Homo sapiens: one gene and its partners. The protein of the gene in region 1 interacts with the protein of each later gene in a pairwise test. Each region holds a gene or a part of one and is shown on either strand. Other genes may lie near its edges.

Region 1 (3,657 bases):
ATACATATAACTATACATATAAAGGTATATATATACACATATATAGGTATATACATATACATCAATGTCAGACCACAGATATGATGGTGGTCCTATAAGATTATAATGGAGCTGAAAAACTCCATTATACCTGCACAGACCTGGTGGACTGAACAAAGGGGGCGAACGTGGGAATAAAAGATAAAAACAAGAGAGTACGTTTGGAAGAAGAGGTCGGGGGCACCTTGCCTCTAGTGGACAAGGGCCCCGAGCTGTACACAGCCCTCCGTATTTATTGGTAAAAGAGATAACGAGAAATGGGGGGCAATTGTCGGGCAATTGTCAGTCGGCCACTTTGGTTCACAGCAGGCTTGCAAGACTGCATCCTTTGAACAATAGGCTCTAGATTTCTCAATGGATAACTTCAAGGAGCCCGGTGCCAGGGAGTGATGTCCCTCAGCAAACCTTTTGGTGGCAGGCGCAGTGTGAGTTTGCTCACATCCTGCATTCATGATAAACAGTTTGCTGTTTGATCATATAGCCTCCAGTGGAATGCTGAGTTGATCACGATCCCTTTGGCCTTTTTGGCTCTCAACAACTCCTATCGCCTAATGACCGCATAGCTGTCATAGGGTCACAGCACAACATATTATGCAAATGTCTGTGGTGATGCTGGTGTAAACAAACCTACTGTGCTGCTAGCTGTATAAAAGTACAGCACATACAATTATTACAGTATGTAATACGTGATGATAATGACTATGTTAGTAGTTTATGTATTTATTACTCTATAATTTTAAAACACTATTTTAGGGTGTACTCCTTCTACTTATATGGTTTTTAAAAAGTTAACTGTAAAGCAGCCTCGGGCAGGTCCTTCAGGAGGTATTCCGGAAGAAGGCACTGTTAGTTATCACAGGAGATGACAGCTCCATGCATGTTACTTGCCCCTGAAGACCTTCCACTGAGACAAGGTGTGGAGGTGGAAGGCAGTGATATTGATGACCCTGACCCTGTGTACTCCTAGGCTAATATATGTGTTTGTGTCTCAGATTTTAACAAAAAAAATTTAAAAAGTTAAAAAAAATTAAAATAGAAAAAAGCTTATAGAATAAAGATATAAAGAAAATATTTTTGTATAGCTGTACAATGTGTGTTTTAAGGTACTATTACAAGAGTCCAAAAGTTAAAAAAAAAAAGTAAAAGCTTGATAAACTAAAAAAGTTACAGTAAGCTGAGGTTATTATTAAGAAATGTTTTCAATAAATTTCGTGTAGCCTAAACATACAATGCTTATAAAGTCTATAGTAGTGTAATGTCCTAGGCCTTCACATTTACTCACCACTCACTCACTTATTCACCCAGAACAACTTCCAGTTCTGCAAGCTCCGTTCATGGTCAGGGCCTTAGACAGGTGTGCCACTTTTTACCTTTTACATCATATTTTTTTTTTACCAAACCTTTTCTATGTTTAGATACACAAATACCTACCATTGTGTTGCAATTGCCTACAGTACTTTGTACAGTAACCTGCTATGCAGGCTTGTAGCCTAGGAGCATTAGGCTATACCATATACCCTGGGTGTGCAGTAGGCTATACCATTTAGGTTTGTGTATGCACTCTGCTGTTCACACAATGATGAAATCACCTAGTGACACATTTCGCAGAACATATCCCCATCCACAGTGACAAGTGACTGTATTTTAAAGCTGTTCTTTATATAAAAGATAAACTTAAAAAAATACAGTAGAGAATTTTAAACTCCATCCTTTCTTACCTCATCCAGCTTTCATTGCCTTTCTTTTGATTAGACTCAGGATTCTCTTCAAATTCAGATAAAATAACACTGCCTCCTGAGCTGTGTTAATGACTCTATTACTCATTTCCCAGCTAGACTCCAACAGAATTGCAAAGGGCCACCATGCTTGGCCTCTCCACAAAATTGCAAAGACTCTCTCTTATGCCCTGTTCCTCTACCTTACTTTTTCCAAACTCTTTTCAGAAAAACTGATTCTTCTGACCTATTTTTATTTCCTCACCAAAACAATAACATTCATATGAAACTGATAGTACCCATAAGGCCTCTCCTTCAGCCCCAGATATGGAAGAGGCAATCTGGGGCTCTACTTTCCTCAGTATGTACACTTCTCTTAATTTAAATATTTAACTTTTGTAAACAGGTGTTTCACAGTCCTGAGGAATGCTTTAAGCACACAATAAATATTAACTGAAATCAAATCAATTTCTCAGTGCACTAGTTTAAACATGCACATTCCATTACATGCAGTAAGAATATGATATTGTGGTAATAACACTTTAGTAAAACTGGCACCGTTTTCCTCTAAACAAGGCAAGGTAGAATCAAGCCCTTTAGGAAATTAAGAGTGAAGGTTCAGGAATGAGAATGCTAATAAACTCAAATGAAATGCTTAGCTTGTCCCTGAACACTGAGAACATGTTTCTTCCTGCCGTTATATTCTAGAATTATGAAGAATTACTACACTTTTGTGGACTGATGAATTTATTTAAACTGATCTAGAATGGTAATCTATACTTACTATCCATTTCACCTTAAACACTGAAAAATTCTAAAAATATAGAGATCTACTTTATTAAAAAAACTTACATAAATATGAAAATATTCCAGAAATACTAAATTAAATCACCATGAAGTATAAACTGTAGTCACTGGTCAAATTTCTGAAGACAAAGTGAAGTTGAAGATATCTTTGGCTGCCTCAATACAGGAACATAATCTTTCCATCATGATAGAGATCTCAGTCAAGATTTTTTTCAGTTTAAACAAACATTTCATTATTCATATTACTAATAATTTACCATGGCTGGGGTAGGGGCGGGAGAGGAGGGAAGACATCCCATTCGTGTCATGAGAATAGGTCTAGAAGTGTAATATTAAATGGAGTATTATTTAACACAGATCCCACGACATCTCATTATATGCATAAAATGATCAGTATTCTATTTATCAAAGAGAAGGAAGAATTCTTTTCAAATTATTTAAGAAAAAGGAAAAAAAAATACCTATAATACCCTCCGGAAGTACATTTCTTTATTCCTTTTATCATCTCTTGATGTGTAATTTTAAACTCCCGTCCTGGAAAGAGAAGTGTGGCCATCACAGCAGCTTTAGAGTGGGTATGAATCACTGCACCTGCTCCTGAAGGAGGAAGAAGAAAGCCGCATGCTCAATGAAGACTGAATTATAGCTTTTAAAGAAAAAAAGTCCATATAGTTATACTTATATTTACATATGGTTATGGGCTTATTTTTCCTGGCATGGAATAAGTTGGTAGTAGGCAGGAGGGTAAGTGGAATAATGGACCTTCCTCATAGGTTGATGTGAGAACTGAGTAAGTTCATGCACTTCAAGTTCTTGCACATGGTGGGTATCCAAGAAATGTTAACTGAAATAATAATTACCATTATTTAGAGGAGCCTACTCTGCAAATATTCTTTATGTTGAATATATTTTCTGCATACCTCTCATTGTGTAAGCATTCATGAAAAGAGGAGTACACTGGCTTTTTTTTAGCTTCTTCGATGGCGAAGGTCCACTTATGTCCTTTTCATTTATATCACAAACAAACATGTCTTCAGGCTATTTATAGAGGGGAAAAAAAGAAAAAAAGAAGGCTTGTAAAATATCAATTAGAAAT
Region 2 (3,657 bases), on another chromosome or scaffold:
GCCCAGCTAATTTTTGTATTCTTAGTAGAGACGGGATTTCACCATGTTGCCCAGGCTGGTGTCGAAATCCAGGCCTCAAGCGATCTGTCTACGCCTTAGACTCCCAAAGTGCTGGGATTATCAGTGTGAGCCACCATGCCTGGCTCATTATGTAAATAATTTAATGCATACATCAAAGACAAGTTGGAAACAAAAGAAAAAGGAAAATGTAATTCTCTATGGACTGCCTCTGCACCTGCTATATAAAACAAGTCTATTTCTCTATGGACTACCTCTACCTCTACTGTATAGTACAATCATTATTAACAATTTGGTGATGTTTCTCTTTGTTAGTTTCAGTTATGCTACCTATGTAAAAGTATATATCTTGCGTTTTTGCTTAATAGTGAAATTTTAAAGCAAGAAATAGTCATATAATTGATAAAATTTAACCTATAGATTTTTAAATTTGTTATTTAAACATATTTTTAATTTGCAAAAAGTTCTCAGTTGGTTTTGTGGCAAGGGTATAGGTATAAACTGTGCGTGGTGGATATGTTAATTATTGACCTTGTAATAGTAATATGGGTTGTCTTATAGAGTCATTGCAGAATTGTACTTGCAACAACTCAGGGAACATAGTGTCCTGCCAAAGTGAAGCCTGTCCCTCAGCATATCACAGGAGGAATGAGGAGGGATACAGTTCTCGATGCAACATCGTATTATCAATAATGCTTTTCAGAGGAAATTTATCTAGAACTGAAATAAAAATACACGTAACCGAAAGGAACATATATACTACATATATATTTCTGCTACTATATATGCTTATGTATAGTATACTACATGTGCTTACATATAGCATAAATATATAATATGTATATATTTATTTTTTCATATAGTATTAAAATTAAAATATATAATATATATTTTGTAGAAATGGTCTTCTTTATTTTCTGCTTAATTGGGAGGTTTTAGCCTTTTCTGATATCTCCTGTTTAGTTTGGCTGTTTAAAGTCTTAGGTGTTTTGACAAAGTATTCCATTTAAGTCACTGTAATAAATCTTCCCTCCTGGATTTTTGTCTTGAGGCTACATGCTGGCCACTGTTTTTTATTTCATTATTACAGCTTAAGAAATTACTTGTTTTCCTGAAGTAGAATTGCCATATCCAATCCAGTTTTTCTCTAGTTCTTACGTAAGAAGAATTCTAAAAATTAAATATATAGAACATTGTTATTTGGCAATTTTAGTGGAATTTCTCGAAGAACATCACCGGGTCCTAGAGTCTAGATTAGGCTCTGTTACCCGAGAAATTACAGATAACAGAGCATGTGCTAAAGAAGAATTGGAAAGCCTCTACCGGAAGATTATCAGCTATGTGTTACTCCGCTCTGGCCTTGGATCCCCTACAGACATCAAGACTGTCAGAGAGGTAACAGGTAAAAAGTATAACCAATTTCCATTTCATAAGTGAAAATATATGGTCATTGTATTTTATAAAACATGTTAAATTAGAAGTGTTAAAGATTGAAGTTCCCTTTTTATCTGAAAAAAAAAAAAAAATCAGCACAAATGAGTTAAAATGTACCCAGTCTCCTTTTACACTGTGTATCCATTCTAAAACTCAAGTAGCACCTCTAGAAAGTGAAATATTGCTAATTTTCCTAGAGCTGTACATATCTAGGCACCTATTACACCCCATTAGAGAAACATTGATAGTAGGATTGAGGGTACCAGGCTGATTGAGTAAATGGAAAAGCTGAAAACGGATATTTCATATTGATGAAAGAAATTGAGTCTGTCATTTAAAATGGGTGATGGAATGGGGCACCATTTTATCCTTAGGAAGTCTTTGCCCTCTTTCATCCTTTAAAATGAGGAATAGGAAAAATGTCTAGCTCTCCTATGGCTTTCTTCCATAATTATTTTAAAGCATCCATTTTTTGGCTCAGATCCCTAATTAGAAAGCTTGTTTTCATGCCCATTGCCAAAAAGTTACTGCTGGATGCTTAATTATTAAAAATGGACATGAGGCAATGGCATAACTCTCAGTAATCCAGCTTTGATGCGTGATAAGTTTTATTATGTATCCTATAATCAGGTATCAGTAATTTAAAGAATCATATAAGTAACTCAGACCCTTAACTTGCTGCTAAAGAAAAACGTTATTTAACGTCTGATATCTTTATTCTATCATTTTGTTTTCCTTTTTTTTTTTTCTGGTTTATTTTAGCTGCTCTACAGAGTGTTTTTCCTCAGGCAGAGCTTGGGACATTTCTAACTCTTTCTAAGAAGGACAAAGAACGCCAGCTGAAAGAACTCACCATGATTGTTACTGGAATTCGTTTATTTAACAGAGACTGTGGAAAAGGAGGAGAAGGCATTGATGATTGTAGGTATATCATTAGATTAATTCTAAAGGTTATGTATGTTTAAAATTTAACTTGCACAGTGAGGAAAATAATAAACAACACACCACTGGCATTCTTAAATTTAAGATTTGCATTTTTTACTGTTTCCTTAAGAATAACTACTGTTTATAATGTGTAGTGATTTTTACTTTTGCTGGGGCAAGACTTTACATTTTATGTACCATGAAGCTAGTAGGAGAAAGTGAATCAGTGAAAGCAATGAAGGGTCCTGCTCAAAGCTAACCTCCCAGTTCAGCAGGGCTTTGTGTTCATTACTGCAAGTCCGTAACCAAAAGGGAGTACAATTTAGTTATTTAAAAAATAAAAATCTTCCTGAAAACAGTTCCTGGTGCAGTTAATGGAATGAAAAGATCCACGAGGAGATATTTCAAATCTCTAAATTCGGGGGCATTTACTTTGTGGTTATATACTTAATGCATTCTTTATAAGTTTGAAAGTACTTATGAAATATTTAATGAAGTACCTACCAGTAGAAGTAACTTCCTTATGAAATTTGGTACTCCTGTAGGCCCACTGATAAGGTGTTAGTGTCTTTCACCAAATCACTAATCTAGTATAAAAGGGTAATTTTTTCTATTTTAAAAACTGTTCTAAAAAGTCAAATTTCCATTTTCATAAATGACCCTCCCTTGCTAGACTATTCTGTCATTTTTCACCATCCAGATGAGTTTCTTAACAAACGTTCCTTTTTTTTTTTTTTTTAATAACTAGAAAAGAAGATATACAAAAGGAAGGGTCAGTGGCTTTTCTGGAAGCACATGGTTAACAACACATAATACCAAACTCTGCCTATTCTCTGAACTCTTCTATATTTAGTGGCAAAAGCTGACCTACTGTAACTGGGTTATCATTCTGTTAATATCTTTTGTTTGAACTTGTTTTAGATTCTTTTTTTTTTTTTTTTTGAGATGGAGTTTCGTTCTTGTCGCCCAGATTGGAGTGCAGTGGCGCGATCTCGGCTTACTGCAACCTCCGCCTCCCGGGTTCAAGTGATTCTCCTGTGCTGGGATTACAGGCATGCGCCACCACGCTCAGCTAATTTTTGTGTTTTTAGTAGAGACGGGGTTTCACCATGTTGGCCAGGATGGTCTCAATCTCTTGACCTCGTGATCCGCCCGCCTCGGCCTCCCAAAGTGCTAGGATTACAGGTGTGAGCCACCACCCCCGGCCTAGATTTTCTTTATGTTGTGGGACCCAGGAAACACATGCCTCATTATTACTAATTTGATTGGGGAGAAAAACCC
Region 3 (3,657 bases), on another chromosome or scaffold:
TTATAGGCGTGAGCCACCGCGCCCGGCCTAATTTTCGTATTTTTAGTAGAGATGGGGTTTCATCATGCTGGCCAGGCTGGTCTTGAACTCCTAGCCTCAAGTGATCCACCCGCCTCACCCTCCCAAAGTGTTGGGATCACAGGCGTGAGCCACCGCACCCAGCTGAGACTTGTTTTATGGCCCAGAACATGGTCTATTTGGTAATATACACTTGAAAAGAATATGTATTCTGCTATCATTACATATAATGTTTTAGGCCAGGCGCGGTGGCTCACACCTGTAATCCCAACACTTTGGGAGGCCTAGGTAGGTGGATCACCTGAGGTCAGGAGTTCAAGACCATCCTGGCCAACATGGTGAAACCCCATCTCTACTAAAAATACAAAAACTTAGCTGAGCATGGTGGCTCATGCCTGTAATCTCAGCTACTCAGGAGGCTGAGGCAGGAGAATTGCTTGAACCTGGGAGGTGGAGGTTGCAGTGAGCCAAAATCATGCCACTGCACCACAGCCTGTGTGACAAGAGTGAAACTCTGTCTCAAAAATATATATATATATAATATTTTATAAATATCCATTAAGACAATTTGGTCAATAGTGTTATATCAAGTTATCCTGATTTCTGTCTAGTTATATTAATTGAGAGAGGTGCTGAAATCTCTATGATTGTCACTTTGTGGACTTCTTTGAGTTCTATTGGGTTTTGTTTCACTTCTTGGAAGTTCTGCTTCTAGCCAGATAAAAATTTATAATTGTTATGTCTTTTTAAAAAACTGATCCCCTTATCAGTATGAAATAATCCTCTTTAACCCTGGTAATATTCTTTGCCTCCAAACCTATTTTAATATAGTCACTCCAGCTTTCTTTTGATTCGTGTTAGTGTACCGTATCTTCTTCCATTCTTTAAACCTAGTTCTGTCTATATATTTAAAGCGGGTTTCTTACAGACAGCACAGCTAAGCTTGCTTTTCTGATCTGGTAATTTCTGCCTTTTAACTGTGTTTAGACCATTTACATTTAGTGTGTTACTGATATGTGGATTTAAATATGGCGTTACATTTGAATTTAGAGAGTATTAAAATTCAGTGTCAATGAAGTTAGCAAATTTAAATCTATAAGAAGTGTTTAAAGGCTCTAGAGTAGAGCTATCTTACACATTAAAAACTTACCAGAATGAGTTCAAAAAGTGTTCCTTGGTCAACTTTCAGGAATTCTTGGTCCCAAACAGGGATATCATCTGTTCGCTTTTCTTTGTTCTCATCATCTTCAGGAGGAGGAGGGTCATCCTTGTGGTGGGTGCACCACTGAATGACCTACAACAACAAAAGTTCATTCCTCTGTGGCACTTTGTCACAAGGTACTCATTCCACTGCTGGGACAACTTATCCCTATATTGGAATAATAACTAGCTAGAGGTTGACTTGAGCCATTAACAGCCAAGCTTGAAAAACAAAAATGAAGCTTGAAGAATCATTATAACCCTAGAAGGGAGAAGATCTTATTAGATAAAAGCAAGCCATGCAGACAGAGTACTGTACTTGACTACATTAAAAAGCTTCTATGCAAAAAGAAAAGTTAGGACAATGACTGGAAGATACCTGCAATATGTACAACAATGATTAGCTGAGAGAATATAAAATCTTTCAAAAATCATTAAAGAGAAATGGGTTAATATGTACAGCCAATAAATGAAATCTGAATAGCCAAACATAAGGAACGCTCAACTTTACTAGAAGCAAAACTAACACTACAGATACTTCTCTAGATTGAAAAAAAATCAAGAAACTGATACTAATTGTTGGGCAATAGTGGAAAGGAAACACAAACTCTTCTAGAGAGTATAAATTGGTATAACCCCTTTGAAAGCTAATCCAGCACTCCTCAGAAAAGCTGAATATGTACATATATTGTAACCAGCAAATTCCAAATACCCTAGACACATGTGTGAGACTATTTGGTGTAGGAACAAAGCAGGAAAAGCCCCAAAATTTCCTTAATAGGAGAATAATTACTCCATAAAGTTTCAGGAAGCTGATTACTTAGACTATACATACCAGCATAAAGACCAAAATCAATACTGAAAGTGTTTTCAGTTGTAGAATCTAGGCAGTGGCTACATGGTTGTCTACTGTGTAATTCTTTCCATTTTTCTGTATGGCTAAAACTTTTTCATAGCAAAATGTTGGAGGAGTAAACAATGCTGAGAGAAAATGGCAGAGCCAAGAAACATTGCCAGGATCCAAAAAAAAAAAAAGAAAGAACAATTTCAATAAGGAAAAGCCAAGCAAAGGGTTGTTTGTTTGTTTTTGAGACAAGATCTCACTGTGTCACCCAGGCTGGAATGCAGTGCCGCGATCATGGCTCACTCGACCTCCTGTGCTTAAGCGATCCTCCCACCTCAGCCTCCCAAGTAGCTGCAACTACAGGTGCATGCCACCACACCTGGCTCATTTTTGTATTTTGTTTTTGTAGAGATAAGGTTTCATCATGTTGCAAACTCCTGAACTCAAGCAATTCACCCACCTTGCCCTCCCAAAGTGTTGGGATTACAGCTATGAGCCACTGTGCCTGGCCAGCGAAAGGTTTTTGTTTTCGTTTTAATTTTGAGACTGAGTTTCACTCTTGTTGCCCAGGCTGGAGTGCAATGGCGCTATCTTGGCTCACTGCAACCTCCACCTCCTGGGTTCAAGCGATTCTCCTGCCTCAGCCTCCTGAGTAGCTGGGATTATAGGTGCCTGCCACAACACCCAGCTAATTTTTTTTTATTTTTAGTTGGCCAGGCTGGTCTCGAACTCCTGACCTCAGATGATCCACCCCCCTTGGCTTCCCAAAGTGCTGGGATTACAGGCGTGAGCCACTGCACCCAGCTAAGGGTTTTTAATGAAATAAATAATAGCTTTTTAGGAAGTATTCCAACTATATAAGAAAATTTAAAAACGTCAATATTTGCTTATCCAGGCATTTTTTAAACTCTAAACCTGGGCACAGTGGTTCATACTTGTAATCTCAGCACTTTGGGAGGCTGAGGCAGGACTGCTTAAGGCCGGAAGTTCAAGAATAGCCTGGGCAATATAGAGACACCCCGTCTCTACAAAAAATGATGATAATAATAATAGGCTGGGCACTGTGGCTCACACCTGTAATCCTAGCACTTTGGGAGGCCAAGGTGGGTGACTTACTTGAGCCCAGAAGTTTGAGACCAGCCTGGGTAACATGGTGAAACCCTGTCTCTATGAAAAATACAAAAATGAGATGGGACTGGTGGTGCACACCTATGGTCCCAGCTACTCAGAAGGCTGAGGCAAGAGAATCACTTGAGCCCAGGAGGCTGAGGCTGTAGTGAGCCATGATCGTGCCACTGCACTCCAGCCTGAGCAAGAGAGTGCGATTCTGTCAAAAAAAAAAAAAAAAAATCACTATCACTACTAACAAAAAATAAAAATTTAAAAATAAAAAACTCTTAAAAGGATATATAAAGAAACTAATGCCTAGGTTCACAACGGGTGGTGCCAGTAAAAAAGAAAAACAAAAAAATGCCACATTACTTTGTGGGGGGAGCAGTTTCCAATCAGATAAGAGACAGGGAAAGGAGATTTTATTGTACTTCCATAGTTTTGGCATCATGTAATTATTCTTCAAAATATGATATATATTCAAT

Evidence for each region.
Region 2: the proteins of APIP (region 1) and CFAP206 interact in binary tests that used the Homo sapiens proteins (3 or more experiments, as listed by UniProt).
Region 3: the proteins of APIP (region 1) and SKP1 interact in binary tests that used the Homo sapiens proteins (3 or more experiments, as listed by UniProt).

What each region holds. Positions count from the first base shown.
Region 1 is NC_000011.10:34,885,271-34,888,927, forward strand, and holds part of APIP (methylthioribulose-1-phosphate dehydratase), read right to left. Parts: intron 3,600-3,657; coding exon 3,482-3,599; intron 3,159-3,481; coding exon 3,023-3,158; intron 1-3,022. UniProt on the Homo sapiens protein: Catalyzes the dehydration of methylthioribulose-1-phosphate (MTRu-1-P) into 2,3-diketo-5-methylthiopentyl-1-phosphate (DK-MTP-1-P).
Region 2 is NC_000006.12:87,414,455-87,418,111, forward strand, and holds part of CFAP206 (cilia- and flagella-associated protein 206), read left to right. Parts: intron 1-1,231; coding exon 1,232-1,420; intron 1,421-2,214; coding exon 2,215-2,373; intron 2,374-3,657. UniProt on the Homo sapiens protein: Essential for sperm motility and is involved in the regulation of the beating frequency of motile cilia on the epithelial cells of the respiratory tract. Required for the establishment of radial spokes in sperm flagella.
Region 3 is NC_000005.10:134,159,819-134,163,475, forward strand, and holds part of SKP1 (S-phase kinase-associated protein 1), read right to left. Parts: intron 1,313-3,657; coding exon 1,169-1,312; intron 1-1,168. UniProt on the Homo sapiens protein: Essential component of the SCF (SKP1-CUL1-F-box protein) ubiquitin ligase complex, which mediates the ubiquitination of proteins involved in cell cycle progression, signal transduction and transcription.